2 separate regions of the Homo sapiens genome follow, and region 2 is linked to region 1. A link means that fine-mapping ties the variant in region 1 to the expression of a gene that starts in the linked region. Tissue or cell type: whole blood. Region 1 holds a variant in brackets; the other region holds the start of a gene. All regions are shown on one strand. Distances are from middle to middle.

Region 1 (2,500 bases):
AATTAGCACAGCAACAGGAAACCAAACGCTGCATGTTCTCACTTGTAAGTGGGAGCTAAACTTCGAGTACATATGAACACAGAAGGGAACAGCAGACACTGGGGCCTACTTAAGAGTGGAGAATAGGAGGAAGGTGAGGATGGGAAAACTACTTTCTGGGTACTATGCTTATTACGGGGATGATGAAATAATCTGTACACCAAACCCCCGTAACATGCAGTTTACCTGTATAACAAAACTGCGTATGTACCCCTGAACCTGAAATAAAAATTAAAAAACATTCTGTTTGTGCCAGTATTCCTCTTAACCTTTGGGTTTTCATCATTTCTGGTAACATGCCTAAAACTGACAGATCCCAAATTATGCATGTACCTGCAATTTGTTAGGATTTTGTTTGTTTTTTGTTTTTTTGAGACAGTCTCACTCTGTCTGCACTCCAAGCTGTAGTGCAGTGGCCTGACCTCGGTTCACTGCAACCTCCACCTCCTGGGTTCAAGCAATTCTCGTGCCTCAGCCTCCCAAGTACCTGGGATTACAGGCATGCATCACCATGCCTGGCTAATTTTTGTATTTTCGGTAGAGATAGTATTTTGCCATGTTGGCTGGGCTGGTCTTGAACTCCTGGCCTCAAGTGATCTGCCTGCTTTGGCCTCCTAAAGTGCTAGGACTATAGGCATGAGCCACTGCACCCAGTCTGTCCTGCAATTTGATGGACTACAAATTAAATAGAGCATCATTACTAAAAGGTCAAATTTTAGGCCGGGCATGGGCACATTCAAGTTTGAGAACAGCCTAGAGCTGCACTTTAAAATTTTAAGTGCTGGAGTAGAAATGTAAGTCTTCTGTCATGTACTATGAATATAGCTATTAAATAGTGGATACTCTTTTTTCCTTGATTCAACATTCAATATTCAAAATTGATTTTTTTTTTTTTTTTTGAGATGGCGTCTCATTCTGTCACCCAGGCTGGAGTACAGTGGTGCGATCTCGGCTCACTGGAACCTCCACTTCCTGGCTTCGAGCTATTCTCCTGTCTCAGCCTCCCAAGTGGCTGGGATTACAGGTGTGC[G/A]CCACCACACCCAGCTAATTTTTGTATTTTTAGTAGAGACGGGGTTTCACCATGTTGGCCAGGCTGGTCTTGAACTCGACCTCAGGTGATCCGTCTGCCTTGGCCCCCCAAAAGTGCTGGGATTACAGACTTGAGCCACTTCGCCCAGCCGAGTGTTTTGTGTGTGTGTGTGTGTGTGTGTGTGTGTGTGTGTGTGTGTGTGTGTGATTTATCACATTTACTTAGGGAATAAAAAATTGAATCTGTCATGTTGAGAGGCTTTGTTATCTCACACTAGCTATTGGCTCAGGAAACATTTAAGTTTATTGAACCAAAACATTTACTTAAAGGAAAGGTAAGGGTGTTTCTCAGCAAACTCATTGGGCCCATAGCTGTTCTTTTGAGACTCGTCTCAAGGAGGGCAGCTGCTGTAAACTGGTCCCTTGGCAGGTCATGGTGAGAGGGAACATATTGAATTGGATGGCCAGAGGTGTGACCCAGTATCTGGTTCCTGGTTATCTGATTTATGTTTTTACATCTTCCAGGTGCCCTCCCGGTTGCAGAGAGCTTCAGCTTCTGCTTGGTAACTCTGCTGTCTGATGTGGCCTATAGGGATCCTTCACTTAGGGATGAGGTAAGCATGTGTTGGTTGATTTGGTATGCATTTCTATTAGATTGAATAGAGTCCCAAAGTGATGAAAAGATTTTAAAAACGTGAAATGTGATTGAATTGTTTGTTGATATTTATCTATTTCATCCTGTTGACAGCAGACCTAAGACATGCTTAGGTCTTTCACTACTCTTTAGGATCTCGAGTCTTATCTTATTAAACTTTTCTTTTTTTTTTTTTCTTTTTTCTAATGAAGGGCAGGGGCTGCAGAGACATGAGCAGCACTATCCCTTTCAGCTTTTCAGAAAGTCCTTTAAGGTAGGCGGCAGAAAAAGGCAGAGGCAGCTCATTTTTCTTGCTCTTTGTTGGGGATTGAAGTCATTCATAGAAGATCATTTTCTTTTCTTTTTTTGAGGCAGTCTTGCTCTGTCATCCAGGCTGGAGTGCAGTGGTGCAATCTTGGCTCACTGCAACCTCTGCCGTCCACCTCAAGCCAGCCTCCCTCCTAAGACTCCCAAGTAGCTGAGACTATAGGCGTGCACCATCATGCCAGCTAATTTGTTTTGTATTTTTTGTAGAGACAAGGTTTCGCCATGTTGCCCAGGCTGGTCTTGAACTCCGGGCCTCAAGTGATCCTTCTGCCTCGACCTCCCAGAGTGCTGGGATTATAGGTGTGAGCCACTGTGCCCAGCTAGAAGAGAATCTTCTAGGTAGCTGAAGCTTTTATCTTTAAGGGCACAGACTTTCTTTAGATTTTGTTAATTTTGATAGAAATGTTACAAACATGTATTTCATACTTTCCTGTTCTTTAAACAAAGAATGTAATCATACAACTTTTTCTT
Region 2 (2,500 bases), 92 kb before region 1:
ACACTAGCTTTCTGTTAGGAAGGCCTTCTGGAAAATAATTTGGTTCAGAATGCGGGGAATATGGGTTCAAGCGCGCCCCACCCCCCTATACAAGCACTCTTCGACAGACCCGGTTCTCGACCTTCCTCCGCGGTCGGGGAGGGCTCTCGCGTACCTGGGCGCAGGCTCGATGAGGGTGGTGGTGTCCAGGTAGTGGATCTTGTAAAACTCCAGCAGGGCCGGCAAATGGTCAAATTCCTGGTCCCCGATCTTAAAACGGCGGTTGGGCAGCGAGTTGATGATGTAGTGGGAGACCCGCGAGTTCTCGGACACCGACAGCACATAGTCCCCAGGGCAGGTGGAAGAATCGCGGACGAGGAACATACCGTGGCGCTGGCCCTGGAGCCGGGTCTGCGCCTCCTGGCGAGACACCGGCCCCATATACCAGGCGGAGCGGTCCGAGGAGTCGAACCTGGCGGAGGACATGGTGTTGGACCGGGGACTCTGCGGCGGTAGGGGCGGCGGCTGTCCTCGCCTGCTCTGCACGCCTTAGCCCGGCAGACGGCTTTGGGGCCGAGGAAGGGCCTCTCGCACACCTCGAGGAGCGCTCAGAGGGCTGGGCCAGCACTTTCCTCTCGGCTCCGGGCCCGCAGCATCCTCCGACGCCGCCCGCCTGCTCCGGGGCCGCCACACGGAGAGAGCCGCCCGGGAATGCACGGCAGAGCCGGGGGGTCGGGGCAGGCAAACCCGAGCCGCAGCGGAGGCCACCCCGGGGTTCTCGGGCTGCTCGGCGTCCCAGGGGTGCCTCCAGTGACTCCCGGCCTGGAACGCGCCGGCGCCGCAGCTCGACGGGTCTTCACCGACCCCCGCCGTCACACGAGGCACCGAACTCGAAGGAGCGTCGCGCCTCCGGGGTGCTTTTGCCCAGCTTGTTCCCAATAGCCACAGCAACAAAATGGCGGACGCGGGAGAAGCGGCAGCCACCTCCCCCTCCGCTCAGCGCGCTCCGTCTGCGCACGCGCTGGGCCCCGGCTCCCGGCGGCCGCCGGGGCCCTCCCGTTACGTCACACAGCGCAGCCAATCAGGAGCACCGTCGCGACGATCAGGGTGGGCGCTGGTCGCGCCCGCTCCCGCGTTCCAGGAGGAGGCTGAAGAGGCGCCGGCGGTAGGCACTCTCTTCCTGGGCCGCTGCGCGCCGCTGGGGGCGCTGCGGCTGCCGGGTCTCCCAGCGCTGGCAGGAAAACAGCTGGAGCCGAGAGGGAACCGCGTTTCGAAAACCTGCTTCTGGGAACAAAGCGTAACGTGCAGGCTGAATCGCGGGCCAGGGAGGCGTGGCACTGAGGCGACCTGGCCAGCCTAGGGGCCTGAGGGAGGTCAAGGACTGACAGGTCCCGATGGGCCGAGGTGGCCCAGTAAAAGGATGAGCCCAGGGGCAGATGTGACCACCAGATAGGTGACTGACTGAATGACTCAGTCCCCAGGTGGCCTGATAGGCTAAGGAAGCCCTAGTGGCTACGTGACCCGCTAAATGGAGTGAGAGGAGAGAGAAGGTGAGGGTTAGATTGACTCAATTAAGTGGTCAAGGAAGTCCACAAGTGGGTAACCTGGCTATCATGGGCTCTGAACTGCTGAAAGTAAAATACAAATGCCTCTCGGGCGTGGCCCCGAGGCTTCCCCTGCCCCGGATTATGCCTGCTTCTGCCTATTTATTAATCCCTATTTGTTTTTGTTTGTTTTCTTTCTTTCTTTCTTTCTTTCTTTCTTTCTTTCTTTCTTTCTTTCTTTTCTTTTTTCTTTTCTTTTCTTTCTCTCTCTCTCTCTCTTCCTTTCCTTTCCCTTTCCCTTTCCTTTCCCTTTCCCTTTCCTTTCCTTCTTTCGACGGAGTCTCGCTCTGTCACCAGGTTGGAGTGCAGGGGCGCGATCTCGGCTCACTGCAACCTCCGCCTCCCGGGTTCAAGCGATTCTCCTGCCTCAGCCTCCCGAGTAGCTGGGATTACAGCTGTCCGCCGCCATGCCCTGCTAATTTTTGTATTTTTAGTAGAAACGGGGTTTCACCATGTTGGCCAGGCTGGTCTCAAACTCCTGACCTCAGGTGATCTGCCTGCCTCAGCTTCCCAAAGTGCTAGGATTACAGGCGTGAGCCACCGTGCCCAGCCTGTTTGTTTTATTTTGTTTGTTTTTGAGACAGGTTCTCCTTCTGTCACCCAGGCTGGAGTGCAGTGGAACTATCATGGCTCACTGCAGCCTTGATTTCCCCATCTCAAGGGATCCTCCCACCTCAGCCTTCCGAGTAGTTGGGACTACAGGCTCGCGCTGCCATGCCCAGCTAATTTTTTTGATTTTTTTTTTTTTTTTTTTTTTTTTGAGACGGAGTCTCGCTCTGTCGCCCAGGCTGGAGTGCAGTGGCGGGATCTCGGCTCACTGCAAGCTCCGCCTCCCGGGTTCACGCCATTCTCCTGCCTCAGCCTCCCAAGTAGCTGGGACTACAGGCGCCCGCCACTACGCCCGGCTAATTTTTTGT

Evidence for each region. PIP is the estimated chance that this variant, and not a neighbour inherited with it, causes the effect.
Region 2: it holds the start of CRKL, and the variant in region 1 is the best candidate, but not a certain one, in a credible set for the expression of CRKL in whole blood (TOPMed, PIP 0.81).

Annotation. Positions count from the first base shown.
Region 1 is chr22:20,823,508-20,826,007 of GRCh38, reverse strand. PI4KA (phosphatidylinositol 4-kinase alpha) reads left to right here. Exons shown (of 55, transcript NM_058004.4): 4 at 1,594-1,682. Among named protein-coding and RNA genes, the nearest start is that of PI4KA, 34 kb to the left of the region's middle. The variant G/A (reference allele first, on the strand shown) is at 1,070.
Region 2 is chr22:20,915,900-20,918,399 of GRCh38, reverse strand. It overlaps CRKL (CRK like proto-oncogene, adaptor protein), which reads right to left and starts at 993. Exons shown (of 3, transcript NM_005207.4): 1 at 155-993. The coding sequence starts at 465. RefSeq lists an enhancer at 277-336 and a silencer at 627-1,076.